Linked DNA regions of Homo sapiens: region 2 is linked to region 1. A link means that fine-mapping ties the variant in region 1 to the expression of a gene that starts in the linked region. Tissue or cell type: whole blood. Region 1 holds a variant in brackets; the other region holds the start of a gene. All regions are shown on one strand. Distances are between the middles of the regions.

The links. PIP is the estimated chance that this variant, and not a neighbour inherited with it, causes the effect.
Region 2: it holds the start of ANKRD55, and the variant in region 1 is fine-mapped to the expression of ANKRD55 in whole blood (INTERVAL, PIP 0.98).

The regions. Positions count from the first base shown.
Region 1 is chr5:56,144,791-56,152,900 of GRCh38, reverse strand. All of the region lies in intron 6 of ANKRD55 (ankyrin repeat domain 55), which reads left to right. It also overlaps the pseudogene RNA5SP184. Among named protein-coding and RNA genes, the nearest start is that of ANKRD55, 84 kb to the left of the region's middle. RefSeq lists a cis regulatory region at 3,931-4,431. The variant C/G (reference allele first, on the strand shown) is at 4,838.
Region 2 is chr5:56,230,109-56,238,203 of GRCh38, reverse strand. It overlaps ANKRD55 (ankyrin repeat domain 55), which reads left to right and starts at 4,874. Exons shown (of 12, transcript NM_024669.3): 1 at 4,874-4,963; 2 at 5,258-5,348. The coding sequence starts at 5,291.

The sequences.
Region 1 (8,110 bases):
TTTTTAAAGAAGGCCTTCTCTACCCCAAGAACTGGATTATGTTATGTTAAATTATGTTTTTGTTTGTTACCAGATTTTTTTTAATATATGGTTTCATTTTTGAACTCTTTGTTCTGTTCCAATGATCTGTTTGTTTTTCCTGTTTCATTAACCACACTGCTTAATTATAAACTGACTTATTTAGAAGTTATCCACACTGCGGTTAACACTGAAAAAAGCAAGATAGGTCAGATTGTCCTTTGTGCTTTTGTTCTTCAAAACAGGACCTCAGAAGAATCATTGACATAGAGTGAGGCTTGTCTGTTGCAGCTACCGGGAGTTAAATGGAAACTAACCTCTCCTGCTCTCATTTTAGCCTTGACAGGAAGAGTGTTCTATCAAGAGAGGCTCTGAGCTGTTGGCATCTGGGTTAGAACTTTGAATGCATTTAACCAGAGAAGCACTGTTATGCACAGCATTTAGGATATATATATTGTTTAGGATATATTAAATGCACATTCTTATGTAAGCAGATTTTTGTGAGCAGTCTGACAAACAAAACTTCAATTGTAGAACCACTCTGAGAAAATAAATTTAAGTTGCAAAAACAGATGTGACCTTTTGGACATAATTCTTAGCATCACTTCTACTTACCACATTCCTGAGATAGAACCAAAAGCAGAAGAAACAGTCCCTGACTTGAAATTTTTAACTTTACAGTTAGCAAAAGGTAACATAACAAACAAAAGTTTTTAATGAATCAGAAGTTTTAGCCTAAGACCGAACATCTAAAAAAAAAAAAATGGAGTAGGGTCACCACTACTTAGGAGCCCCCACCTCCCTCTCCCACTCTCCTCCAACCCTATAAACTTCTAGAGGCAGACCATGCCTTTTTTTATCTTTGTATCCCCAGTTTCTAGTTCAGTAGCTTGCACAAAAGCTTTAGTGAGGCACAAAAATTTTTTATATATATATACACACACATATATACATATATACATATATGTGTATATACACACATATACGTGTGTATGTATATGTATATATACACACGTATATATACATATATATACACACACACATATATATATATAGATTTTTTTTTTTCCGAGATGTGGTCTCACTGTGTCACCCAGGCTAGAATGCAGTGGCACTATTTTGGCTCACTGCAACCTCCGCCTCTTGGGTTCAAGTGATTCTCCTGCCTCAGCCTCTTAAGTAGCTGGGATTACAGGTGCCTGCCACCATGCCCGGTTAATTTTTGTATTTTTTGTGGAGATGGGGTTTCACCAGGTTAGCCAGGCTGGTCTCGAACTCCTGTCCTCAAGTGATCCACCTGCCTCGGCCTCCCAAAGTGCTGGGATTATAGGCGTGAGCCACCACGCCCAGCCTAGATATATATTATATCTAGATATGTTATATCTAGGGAGAAAGAAAGAATTAAATTCAAGAAAAAGTCATGTTATTTTATTTTATGGCCCTTTCTTCTTTTGTTTTGTTGACTCAGCTATCCAATTTATTTCCCAGACTTGACTCCAGGTGACTGTTATTTCCAAAACCTACTCTCAAAAAACTAAGATTTTCATGGTATTAGAGGTGTTTATGAGATATAAATAAGTAAATAAAATTTTATACCAATTAGAATTTTTTAAAAATGTCCTGTAGACTTTAGAGCAGGAGTCCTTACCCATATTTATGACATGGACACATCTTCATGTGTTTGTGAAACCTATGGATAACTTCTCAGAAACATACCTGAAATTAGGCTGGGTGCAGTGACTCACACCTGTAATCCCAGCCCTTTGGGAGGCCGAGGCAGGAGGATTGCTTGAGCTCAGGAGTTCAGGATCAGCCTGGGCAACATGGCTAAACCTCATCTCTATTTAAACTTCTTTTTAAAAGGAAAAAAATATCAAAAAGGAAAAATATCTGAAATTACAGAAAATGAAACATATAAGATTGCGAAAGAAATCAAAATATTAAAATACAGCTATCAAAACATTCTTTTATTTATTTATTTATTGAGACGGAGTCTCGCTTTGTCGCCAAGGCTGGAGTGCAGTGGTGCGATCTCAGCTAGCTGCAACCTCCACCTCCAGGGTTCAAGTGATTCTCCTGCCTCAGCCTACCGAGTAGCTGGGATTACAGGCACCCACCGCCACACGTGGCTAATTTTTGTATTTTTTAGTAGAGGCGGGATTTCACCATGTTGGCCAGGCTGGTCTCGAACTCCTGACCTCAAATGATTCATCCACCTTGGCCTCCTAAAGGGCTGGGATTACAGGTGTGAGGCACCACGCCCAGCCTATTTATTTATTTATTGAGACGGGGTCTCACTCTGTGAGGCCAGAGTGCAGTGGTGCAATCTCAGTTCACTGCAACCTCTGCCTCCCAGGCTCAAGTGACTCTCCCACCTCAGCCTCCCAAGTAGCTGGGACTACAGGCGCATACCACCATACCCAACTAATTTTTTTTTTTTCTGTAGAGGCAGAGTTTCACCATGTTGCCAAGGCTAGAAAACATTTTAAAGACCAAATTTATGATAATAACATATAAGGTTGTTTATTAATGCGTTAAATAAGATTTGATGGTAGGAGCACAAACTGCTACAATTGTTGAAGTAGTGAGACATGTAGTGATCTGCAATCACTAATGTAATAGCACTGTACCTATAATTTATAGAGGTGGCAAAGTCACAGGTACTGTTTATACTACTGTGGGTTGTTGCCTATATTCATAATTGAAAAAGATGTTAAATTTCAATTAGAAGTTAGTGAAAATAGGCCGGGCGCAGTGGCTCACGCCTGTAATCCTAGCACTTTGGGAGGCCAAGGCAGGCGGATCATGAGGTCTAGGAGTTCAAGACCAGCCTGGCCAATATGGTGACGCCCATCTCTACTAAAAATACAAAAATTCAACGGGCGTGGTGGCTCGCACCTGTAGTCCCAGCTACTAGAGAGGCTGAGGCAGGAGAATCTCTTGAACCCAGGAGGTGGAGGTTGCAGTAAGCCGAGATGGTGCCACTGCACTCCAGCCTGGGTGACAGAATGAGACTCCGTCTCAAAAAAAAAAAAAAAAGAAGTTAGTGAAAATAAAGATGTAATTATTTCTCTGATGAAACTCACACATCCTTATTTCTATCCATGGATAGAGCTCTTGCTCTAGTGGCAATTTCCAAAAAAAAACCTCCCAAAAGTATTTTGAGCAATGAGTAGAATAATTGTATAGCCTCCCAAGGTGATCTCCTTGGAACAGGAAGATTGTTTTATTTTAATTATTCAACAAATATTTGTTCAGTACCTGCCATGTCTCATGTGGGCTTCATCCCTGCTATGATGGAGTTCACAGTTTAGTGCAGAAGAATGTAGATGTTCTTTTTTTGTTGAAAATTAAATCTATCAACTTAGGCTTCTATTCTGAAGGCTTTGTTTTATAAGTTTGTTCTTGTTAGAATTGGCTCCTAGACTTCTATGGCCTAAGTTCGTTTTATTGTTTTTCTTGTCTGATTTAAATTATGAAAACTCCCATTCTAAAGTCTTTTTTTAAAAATGTCAGACATATTATTCTTATAATTATTACAGGGAGAAAGTGAGAGTTTTTAAAGAGTGTCGTTATTAGCAGCCCTTCCTAGTGCCCTAAAATCCAACCTCAGAGTATTCTTGGCCTTCAGTTACAGTCTTTGGCTATCGTGATGCTCACCGTCTATCTACTCAGTTTAGGAAATTCCAAAACAAAGACAATGAATTAATTTACTAAGCTTTCTGATGTATAAGATTGTTTTTCAAATAAAAATGAAAGAAAATGGCTTTCATTACTGTACTTGTAACACCATCTAGTTTTTAAAACTAGATCTACTTTTAAAGTACATATTAATTCCAATTTTTTATCTAAGGGAGACCCTCTATCACTTTTGTTGGGGGTGATCATATATGATTAGAGGATTAAGTATGTTAATTTTTAAATGTCAACCAGAGCCAAGCTGCTGGAAATTCTAGATCCTTCAAAGCATCTGGAATTGTTTACTGACCTCTCAGCCAGCAGACACCTGCTATAATTCTTAACCCTCCCCCTCCACCACCCCACCCCGAACCGCCAACCAAGACGGGGAACAAACCAAGCACCCAGCCACATCAACATTTCTCTCTGTGTGCCTTTCAGTGTTGTCTAGAGACACTCTAAAAGTACAGTTCTGAAACATGAAACCTGCTAAGCACTAAAGCAGATTTCTGGTTCAGAAAACACAAAAGTGGTTTTGAAAAAAAAAAAATGTTCTGAGAAGCTGATAGGACTTGTAAGCCTTTAACTGAAATTGTGGTGGCACAGGTTCAAGGCGCAGAATTACTCATCAACACAAGACACTGTTCCAAAGCAACCCTACTATGCACCCAACAGTTAGAACATACATTTTGTCTTATCAGCAATCTAAAATCAGATCCCAAGTCAACCAAAACTTAACATTTCCCCTCAAAACATTCTGGAGAGCTTATATTTTTAACTGAATATGTGTTCCTCCTCACTCTTTGAGCCAATCAATACTTTTTGATTTTCAGAAGAGTAGAATTCTCCCGTCACCAGGGCCATCTGGGTGTTTGTTGCAACATGCCTGATAGTGACTGCTAGATTGTCAGCTCCTAGATGCTTCGAAGGCTCAGTTTATCCCTCAGTGAAACTCCAGGAAGTAACTGGTTGGAAAGGTCTCCATAACTTGGACACAGATGGCTGTCTTATCCAACAGACTCTGATTTTATATTCCCTATGAGTCCAAGTGATCTTTGATAAGCTGCAATTCACTAATTAATTCTTCCAGTAAGCATTTCTTGAACACTTACTGTGTGCTCAGTGCAGGGAGCATACCATG[C/G]TGAATATGCCACAGCATCTGCCTTTATGTGCATCACAGCTTAATCGTGATTTCTGTCACTGCTTAGTACAGATACCAATTGCTAAGCCTGATGTTTGCCCCTTAACTGGTCACCAGAATTTTAACATAAGACAACTACAATTTCTGCGGGCCCAACAGAAGTTGAAGAAAGAAGAAGAAGAAAGGAGAAGGAAGCAGTTGTAGGAAAATGTTCCTAAATAAAGTGTGCAATACCAACCGCTGCCTTTGAGCTGCTTTTGAAAGCTTTGGTTTTCACATTATTAACTCTAAGAGGATTTATTCTTATTTCTCATCAGCCCAAATGAAAAAAAGAAAAAGAAAAAAAAGCGGCAGGAAATTTCCCTTTACTTGACTGAGTGTTCACAGCCCATTTATATTGCACAAGTATTTAGAAAAGTAATGAAGTAATTTGGGTCTTGATTTGGAGCCATTCAGAGGATCACCAGTTATTTTCAAGATGTTCTCAAGTTTTGTGGTGACGGTGAACTGGGTGGGAGAATATGTATTATGTATGTGTATATATCTTATAAAAATAAATGTTTGCCAACTGCACTTTCAGGAGGACCCTTGAGGCAATGCCAAATGAAACAAAAATATAGGGTACCAATCCTTACACTAGTAAGAACCATCATTTTAGAAAGTAAGACAACCTTGAATCCAGCTACAATTACAAAGAAAGGAATTTTTTAGCATCTGAGCTCATTCCCAAAATGAAATTCTACCACCATGATGTGTGGAAAGAACATTTTTTTCTCCAGAGTCAGAGAAACAAGTATTGAACCCTAGCTCTACCATGGACTCAGTCAATGGCCTTAGGCAAATTACTTAATCTGTATTTCAGTTTCCTTGCCTGTAAAATAGGCTTAAAACTACTAACCCCTTAGGATCATGTAAAGATTCTATGAGATAGAATATACAAAGCTCTTGGCACCAAGTAGGTGTATGAAAAATGATAGCACTCCTCCCACCCCACCCCTTCACCAAACTATGCAAGAGTTGGGTTTTGTGGGGGGGTTTCTTGCGGTTGTTTAAAGAGAATAACTCTTAAAGTCTGAAACTGTATTTAGGAGACAATAATTAACACTGCATTACCATTGTTTAATTCACAACCACATTTTCGCACTGAATTCCCACATCTCTAAATCATACTTCTGCATATACTCATTGCCATCTACCTCACGTTTGACAGTGCAGTGGTCTATGGCCAGAACCACCCTGAACGCACCTGACCTCAGAAGTTAAGCAGGGTTAGGCCTGGTTAGTAATTGGATGTGAGATAGTACAGTAGTACAAAGGACAAGATTGTTTGGAGCACTCATCAAAAATCCTGACAAGTTTCAGCTAATGAGTTGGTAACAATGATCATATCAGACAAGTTCATTGTCTATAAAGGAGAGGTCATGTTCTGCCTTTCTTCTGTGTATGATTTTAAAAAGCAAAGCCAAATTTTTACGAAGAAATTCGGCCGGGTGCAGTGGTTCACTCTTGTAATCCCAGCATTTTGGGAGGCTGAGGTGGGCTGCTAAGGTCAGGAGCTCGAGACCAGCCTGGCCAACATGGTGAAACCTGTCTCTACTAAAAACTACAAAAATTAGGCAGGCGTGGTGGCGGGCACCTGTAATCTCAGCTACTTGGGAGGCTGAGGTAGGAGAATCCCTTGAACCTGGGAGGTGGCAGTTGCAGTGAGCCGAAATTGCGCCATTGCACTCCAGCCTGGGCGACAGAGCGAAACTCCATCTCAAAAAAAAAAAAAAATCAGTGGAGCATAGTAAGTCATTCGTTCCGTTAATAAGTGTTTACTCAGCATCTATAATGTGCCTGGCACCATTCTAGGATCTAGGAATTCAGACTGGCAAACAAAGGCCCTGCTCTCATGCAACTTACGCTCCAGTAACTTGAAAAGTTTTGGCACTTCGTGATGAAGCCAATGACTTCATTTCATCACTTCATTTGCAATGAAGCAAATGGGACTAAGAACTGGGAAACGGGCTATCCATGCATTATTTTTAAAATATAATTTAATTTTAAAATATAATTCCCTTGTGTTAGATTTCTAACCCCAGTGTGCCCAGTTAAAAATGAAGAGGACCAATTAGAATGTACTGAGGTATTCTGATTTCCAAGTAAATATTCAGCTATTGGAATAAGAATAAGAAGTTCCATTGCTTTTATACCAGCATTGTTTTTCATATGGAACCAATTTCTTGAAATATCCTCAAGAGTATCTCTGGAGGTTCACTGTCATATGATACTTGAAACTTGAAAGCAAACCATAATATAGGAATTTAAAATATGGAACTGGTTGAAGGGATTTTCTAATTCTAGTGTCCCACAAACCTTAAACCCTAGATTCAGTTCCATGCTACTCACAAACTCAGGAATTTCTCTAGAGCTCAGCTTCCTCTTCTATTAAATGAGAAGTACAATGGCACCTATCAGAGCTGGCTAACTGCTCTAGCAAACGACTTGAAATCTCAGTAGCCTGACACAATAAAGGCCTATTTCTTGCTCATATCATAATCCAGTGCTGTTTGGCAGGGTGGTCCTATTCTCCCTCATTGATCAGAAACCCAGGCTTTTCAATCACATGATTCCAGCATCTTCCAGAGCCTTGTCCTCCTCTGCATTCTGTTGATATATGAGGAAAAAAAGAAGATGTGGAGGACCACATGGGCTTTTTTTCTAGCCCAGGCCTGGGGAAGGTTTCCATCTCCTCTGTCCACATTCCAATGGCAAGGACTCAGTCATGTGGCTGCACCTATCTGCAAGGAGGCTGGGGAATGTAGTTTGACTGTGTGCCCTAGGGGAAGAGGAAACAGCTTGGTGAACACGTAGGAGACATCACCACAGTACTTACTCCAGAAGTTTGTTTGGAGGATTAAGTGAGACAATAGATAAAAGAACTCATAAAGGTCTCTAGATCAATAAATATTAGCTCTGCGCTATTATTAATGTGCTCCTGTCTAGGCTGAGGCCCATCTTCTCCATGCAGCTCACCCTGGAAGGAACAGAGAAAGCCAAGGTGTTGTCTCCTAGCTTTATGCTATCAGCAGAGATAACTATAGAAAGAGAGTCTTCAAAGCTGCCCATGCCCTTTGCCCCCTTTATCAGGCATCTTCATTTCAATTCATTCTAGATACATTTCATGGAATTGAGATGAGTGAGCAAGGAGAAGAGCCAATCTTTTCATCATATATACGTTCAGATAACGCTGGCTCTTTTTGGCCACCATTTCTCAGCATAAGCTCACTT
Region 2 (8,095 bases), 85 kb before region 1:
TGATTGGCATATGTTGAATCAACCTTGCATGCTAGGGATAAAACCCACTTGATTATGGTGGATTAACTTTTTAATGTGCTACTAGATTCAGTTTGCTAGTATTTTGTTGAGGATTTTTGGATTTATGTTCATCAAGAATGTTGTCTTGTCACCTGAAATAAACTGTTTCTGGTGGTCTTTACTAATAGGTATTGAGAGGAAAAAGCATTTGCCAGAGCAGTAACTGCATACTATGTACCAGAGAGTGTTTTAATTTGCTCAAGGAATAAAACCATATCTGAACAACAGCTGCAATTGGAGTTGCCACCTGGTTAAGCTTACTATAATCCACTGTTATTCTCGAAGATCCACCTGTCTTCTGCCAAATTGGAAAGCATATTGGAGAGTTGAATGGAGATGTGGTGGGAATCACCACCCCTGCATCCTTCAGGTCCTTTATGACCTCTACAGTTCCCCCAGAAATGTCGTATTGCTTTTGGTTTAGTATTTTCCTAGGTAGACACAGTTCTAGTGGCTTCCACTTGGCCTTTCCCACCATAATAGCCCTTACTCCACGATTCAGGGAACCAATGTAGAGATTCTGTGAGCTGCTAAGTATGTCTATTCTAATTGTGCATCCAGAACTGGGGAAATGACCACAGGATGGCATTGGGGCCCATTAGACCCACTGTGAGATGGATCTGAGCTGAAATCCCATTGACCGCATGACCTTCAAAAGTCCCTCCTCTGACTGGCAGGCCACAGTGATATTTTGAGTCTCCTGAAATTAGTGTCAGCTCAGAGCCAATGTCCAGTAAGCCCTGAGAGGTCTGATTATTTCTCTTTTCTCAATGCACAGTTACCCTAGTAAAAAGGCCATACATCTCTTTTGGGGAAAACTGAGAGAAAGATTAACAGTATAAACATTTAGTAGGGTACCAGGGCCTTTCCTCAAGGGCTCCAGCCTCCCCTTCATTTAAGGGGTTTTAGGTTTGTAAACAGGCTCAATTCTGGGAATTAATTGAGGGATCATGATTCTCTGTTTTTATGATTCGTGTTAGACTTTTGTCACTTAACCTAGAGCTTTTCTGCTTATGCAGATTAAGAATTTCATAGGCTTCCTATCTATTTTACTTTGAGAAACGCCATGATCAACTAGCCAATGCCATAGGTTTCTATGACTCAGACAACTCTGATTGCTGCTTGGACCTCTGCTGTCCATTACAGCATAAACCAAAGAGTGACTGAGGTAGATCTTAATTGACTGCAGGTTTATTTTGCCAAGGTTGAGGATGCAACCAGGAAAAAGAAACACAGGTCACAGTGGGATCTGTGACCTGGGCTTTTTCCAAAGAGAGTTTTAGGAACTTCAGTATTTAAAGAGGACAGAGCAAGCAGAAGAGGAGGGAAATAAAGGAGAGAGGATAGGCAATGAAACAAGTGGTCACCTTTTTGTGAGGCTCTGATTAGCACTCAGTGAGTCTACATATTACATGTGGAAAGAGGGAATAGAGTTGGCCGGGCGTGGTGGCTCATGCCTATAATCCCAGCACTTTGGGAGGCTGAGGTGGGCAGATCACCTGAGGTCAGGAGTTTGAGACCAGCCTGGCCAATACGGTGAAACCCTGTCTCTACTAAAAATACAAAAATTAGCCGGGTGTGGTGGTGGGGGCCTGTAATCCCAGTTACTCGGGAGGCTGAGGCAGGAGAATTGCTTGAACCTGGGAAGCAGAGATTGCAGTGAGCCGAGATCACACCACTGCACTCCAGCCTGGGCAACAGAGCAAGACTCCGTCTCAAAAAAAAAAAAAAAAAAAAAAAAAAAAGAGGGAATAGGGGAAAAAGCAATTACACATTTCTCTCATGCCCAGTAACTCTACATATGATAAAGTCAGCATGTGAAAATACAGCTATCTGTTTGGGAACGAAAGAAGACAGCTTTTTGCATGACTCAGTTCTCAAGCTTAAATTTCCCTGTGGCATAGTGAATTTGGGGTGCCATGATTCTATTTTTTTTCCACAACAGTAACTATGCCCACCTTGTCTTTGGCAGTTGAGTACCACCACTTAGCCCTACCATCCTAGGATCCAATTATTCCCACTGCATTTAGGTTTCCCAATTCAATGACTGCAGTTCTCACTGTCTGCAGAGAAGAGCAATCACAGAACTCTTCAAAGATGCTGGGGTTCCCCTCACAGATTTATTCCTATTCCTCACGGTACTGCTAAAAGTATGTCTTCTAGACCCTCCAGTGTGGGTGAGTAGTTCTTAAATGACAAATCCACTCTGACATTCCAATCTCCCTAAGCCTTTGAATCTCTTCCACATTAAACCAAGGCAAGTCCAGTATTTCCAATTTGCTCACCCTGGGCCACTTTTTGGTCCATGTTTCAACCCACTAACCTGACTGTTAGAACACTTTATAACTGCCTGAGCTGCAACAGTAAATGCAGAATTTCTGCTTAATTAGTTAATATCAATAAATTCAACCTGATCTAACTTTATGTTCCTTTCACCATTATTTCACTCCCTTAGTATCCATTCCCATGTTTCCTGGATTTTTAGGAAGTTCAAGTAATTATTTTGGAATATAATGTACTTCATGGGTCACACTTTGCACCTCACCTTTAGGGGCTGCTGGGACTTGAGTCTAGTTATAGGTCTAGAAGCAGAGGAACAATGGTGGTGGCTCCTGAAGAGAATCAGCATTGTTGTGCACGGCAGCTGCCTCAAGGAAGGCCAATACAGTTTCCTCAGGCAATTCAGAGTCAATCTTCTCAGACTGAGGTGAAAAGGCTGCTACCACTGGAGATGGGGAGGCTGCTTCTACTAGGGATTGGGAGTCCACTTCCACTGGCAAAGAAGACTCCTCAGAGTTTAGATGCTCAGTGTCCCCCAGCTTCATCAGGGTCTTCTCACATGTCTCTATCCAATTTACAGTATCCTCTACTTTCCCAATCAATGTCCTCACTTTAACAGCAGACATCCTGTGAAGCTGGGAGTTTGACTTGCGCTGTAATTCAGGAGTTCAATTTGCATTGTAATTCAGGCAGCTGCAGCATGAGAGCCTGCATTTGATTGCAGCATCCTCAGCCTCATGGCTACAGGAGGTAAGACTCTCCTTCAGGGTACACATACACACCTCCAGGTCATCTATATGGCACCTGAGCTGGGAATTAGAATCCGTGAGCTAATCCTTTTCTTTCATCACTTTGTCCAGTGACATTAGGAGCAACCAGCCATATTCATTAAGTTTCCAAAAATGTTTGAGGGTATCATCTACACAGTCACCCAACTCCTTGCCTGTTGTGTCCAGTGATTAATTAGGAATATTCAGTGCAGCTTTTTGCATATCTCTATTACCACTTCACACCATGGACTATCAATGCTCTCTTTACTCCTAGAAATAAAGCTATTAGAATCCTTAAATTTAATCAGATTTGAGAGCCAATTCCAGAAACCCTAGAACCAATCCTCAAGTACATGGTTTCTTGTTTAGACTAGAAAATTTCAAGGACTACAGAAGTTCTTGTCAGAAAGTTCTTACCCCATGAAGGATGGTTAATTGGGTTCCAATGTTACAATGTCAGTGAGCAGGTTGTCAGCTTGAGCAAGGAAAGTTCTTCAGTGAAGTTTCACTCATGCACTGAAATGTACTGAGCACCTCCTTTGTGCCCCTCTCTGTGCTAGGCTGTAAGGACATGGAGTGGACAAAGCAGACAAAGAAAGAGTAGACAAAGACCCTGCCCTTATGAAATGTACCCTCTTGTGGAGAAATATTTTAATTTGGGTTTCCGTAAAAGCAGACCCTGAGACAATGATTCCAATGCAAGTAACTTATTGAGAAGTGCAGGAAATATCAGTAGGAACGTGGGAAAGTAATACAGGGAGGGAACAGCAGCCCATAAAAAGAACGTTATTAGACCTATTCTCACAGGTGGCAGTGGAGTTTAACCCTGAAGGAGTTTAATCCTGAAAGGGAAATGGCAAACGGAGTAAAACACCATGCCTCAGAATCATCCTATCCAAGGGCAAAGGAAGCTGGTGTTTATTATTAGATTCAACAAGCATCTACTATATGGCTATTTGACTTATCCAAAAATCTGGTTGTGCCTAGAATATAGAACTTTGTTTGAATTTAGTATATCATATTTTTATTACAAATACAAGATAATAGATACTGGTTATTAACAAGCCAAAAATACAGAGATTGATACAGAACAAGTTAGAAATCTCCTACTCTAATCACAGTGGCCTGAGGGAACCAATATTAGCAGTTTAGTACGTATCTTTCTACATCTTTTTCAGTGTTCGTCTGAATATATAAAAATAATGTATACAGTGAGTGGTTTCCGGTTTTATTAAAACACGAACAAATGAAATATATAACTTGTTTATTTCATTTAACAATAGATTAGTGACATGTCACCAGATAAATACACAGATTTATTTATGTCAGATTTTTAAATCTAGAGTACGAATTTACTACCATTTACTTAGCTGCTCCCTGAATGAGGTACATTCGGGTGATTTTTCAGGTTTTACTACATGTAATGCTACAATAAACACCCTTGTGACAGCAGACTGTTTTAATTTTATCACCACAGACACTCGAGCCTTGAAATGTCACCTTTCAAATGACGCCTTTCCCCATCCTCCCTGTCAATTGGAGAACGGAGCTGAAAGGGGAGTGAAGAAGACTGCCAACATGGATAATTACTCCACACAGCACATGGCCAGCAGCCTCCTGCTACAATATTTACATCCTATTCCATTGAGATGGCACTCTCTGCTCACATGACCCAAATGCAGTTCTCACTCCGCCAAAAGCACAGCCGAATGCGAACTGCATTGGCAGCTTTGCACATGCTCTGTCTGGCCCTGTGAATCCTCACTCACCCATTCAGATTTCTGTTGGTGTAAAGCGACATTCCAGCTGCTGAAGCTCCGTGATCTGCTGTGTTTTTCCAGCCCAGATCCAAGGCAGGTGGCCCATACAATTTTACTATCTTTTTGGAGTTTGAGTAATTGTGTTTATTGATTTGGGGGTGGAGGGTGTATTATGCCCATGTACAGCTGATGAATGAGGCCATAGAGTAACTCTTTTCCTAGCAGGTATTTACAGGAATAGCATTTACCTATTTTCATCACCTTGCCTTGACAACAACCTGCAGCTCTGATGCACATTTAATCCTGAAACAGAGGTCTTGGCAAACGATGCTGCCTCTGACTGTCATGTTGACAGTAAGGTTTGAGATGGTGTTTTCTCCTCTCTAGAGACCTGGATGCTTTTTGCCATTCTGATGGTAAATGATGAGACAGGCTACCATGGATTTCAGCACCCCTTCTGTGTTTGATCAGCAAAGAGGTAAAATGCTGCTTTAACACATTCTTTGGTTGTTAGCATCCTTAGTCTCATGGTATGGATTTACAGTTGTAAGGAGAGAAAGAGAAGTGTGTGTGTGTGTGTGTGTGTGTTCATGTGCGTGGGTGTGCATGAGTATTTGCTATGTAGGATGTGGAAAGAGGATTTCACCTAGAAAACAAACCTGTTCAAAATGTTCACTTCTAGTTTGATAAGCATCTGAAACAGAAAAATAAGCTTATGATCTGTTGTATAAGCTTATGATCTTGTTGAAGTATTCCTACCTTCAAATTTTAAAAACTGGATTTCAAGCACACCAACTATTTCAGATAGTGTCATCTTTATTCTGTTTTTTCCAAATCTTTTTTAAAAATTAGGGTAAGCAATGTAAGAACACATCACATTTTTTTTGTCATTCGATTAGCCCAGTATCTCATTGCTGTATCTTCGTAAGCATTTTTTTATTCCTTTCAGGAATAGATGTTGCCTGTATTTATGTCGGGTTGATATGTTATCTCATCCAAGGTTGTGTAATGACATATCCCTATGCTATTATTTGCAATGCCAGGGTATATCTTCCTTACTTATAATTTCTGGAGTGGAGGTAATTTTCCACATCAAAATGTTGCTGTGAGATCAACTTATCCTTATAATATCACATATTTGGCCATGTGGTCTATGTGTATACATTTTGCATATGCAATGTGTTTATATACATCTTCGTGTAATACTTATGTGTAATAGTAAATCTTTTTTTAGTATAAACATGAAATTTCCATTTTATAAACATAATAAATATTTTTTAGAATCTTTTCTTAAATATCTATTATTTAAACCACTTTCTACAGTCTCTGAATATTCTTCAAGATCCTAAGTTCCTTTGGTGATTTTATCTGTTTTGGCTACAACATGAAATGGTGGTTTGAAAAAGCCTCATTAAGAAAATGTACTGCTTCATTCTTTTTTCCCTTTTCCTGCTCTAGGCCATAGCATGTTTATTACCCCTCAAGCTACATCTGGCTTTGTGGGTGAATTATTTTAGCCCAGGGGGTTTCTCCAAAAATAAATTTATATTTAGATTCCTGAGTTAGCTAATGTATATATGTGTATAGTGTGTTCTCCAGGTCTTAGCTCATTTGGAATAGTGTTTGTGTATGTGTATGTGTGTGTGTGTGTGTGTGTGTGTGTGTGTGTGTGTGTGTGTGCGCGCCTTCAGAACGTGCCGGCTCATACCGTGTTTGGATCTGAACAGCATAGAGAAAGGCGTTGTCACAGCTGTGCCCACCACCATCCTCTCCTCCTGGTACATTTTATATCACTGATGGCAGTCAGTAAAAGTGAAAATCTGCTAAGAACCAAAGAGCTCACACTGGCTGAAAAATGATGTTGCTAAGCCACGAAACATACAATGGGTTTATTTTTGAAGACTAATTGGAGGGAGCTGGGACTGACTGAAGAAGAACTAGCTCTTCATAATGAATTTACATGTTCCAGTGCTGTACCTTCTAACAGGATTGAGCCCCAAACATAGTTAAGATACAGAATTACAAGACTGATTTTCTTTTAACACCTTTCATGTGAGCAATTCACAGCAATTCCTCCACCTGGGCCGGATTCTCTCCCATGGAAGTTAACCCTCTCCCTGCCATCTTTATCTCTATTTCTCAATCCTTTCTCTCTTTCTAGAGGTTTTATCATATGATGGAAAGAGCATGGGATTTTAAATCTTATAGACGTAGATCAGAATGGCAGATCATCTACTTCTTAGCTGTGTGACCTTGGCAAGTTACCTAACCTCTCTGGGCCTTAGTTTCCCCAGGAATACAATGAAGGAAATGATGCTTACCTAGCAGGGTTGTTGTGAGGATCTAAAATAATAACATATAAAAAGCACCTGTTAGCAATGCCTGATATTCAATAAGTATTTTCCCATTTTGGCTGCAGCTGTTATTATTATTGCTGTTGTTATTATCACCTTGGACTGGGAGTTTCTGAAGTGCAAAAGACTACTCATCTCTCTACCTTCAGCCTGAATGTAGCAGTCCTCAGATCAAATGAGGGCTTAGTGCTGGATGACTAAATTACATTAATTATTTTTTTCAGAACCCTAGGATACCATTTATAGCAAGACCTAGAATAATAATTAACTAAGCCATTCCTGAATAGTTTTATTACCCATTAATCCTTCCTCTTTCTTAAAAGCATGAAAGACCATGAGGGTTGAGACCATTATACAGATTTTAAATACTATATTGTTGGACAAACCAAAGGGAGGTGACTTTCTCGGGAAAAGTTGAACATGGGGCTTTAGTTGAGGGTTTTTCATGAATCGTTACTGTCTGGATAAGTGAACCCTAGCAGTACTGTCTTTACATGCAGATGGGGACAGAAGACATTGCAGCTGGAAGAATCTTAGCAATCAAGTAACCTGTTGGTTCTCACATTGGCTGTACTTAAGAATCATCTGGGCCGGGCGCAAGGCTCACGCCTGTAATCCCAGTGCTTTGGGAGGCCGAGGTGGGCAGATCCCAAGGTCAAGAGATCGAGACCATCCTGGCCAACAGGGTGAAAGCCTGTCTCTACTGAAAATACAAAAATTAGCTGGGCATGGTGACACACGCCTGTAGTCCCAGCTACTCGGGAGGCTGAGGCAGGAAATCGCTTGAACCTGGGAGGTGGAGGTTGCGGTGAGCTGAGATCAGGCCACTGCACTCCAACCTGGCGACAGAGCAAGACTCTGTCTCAAAAAA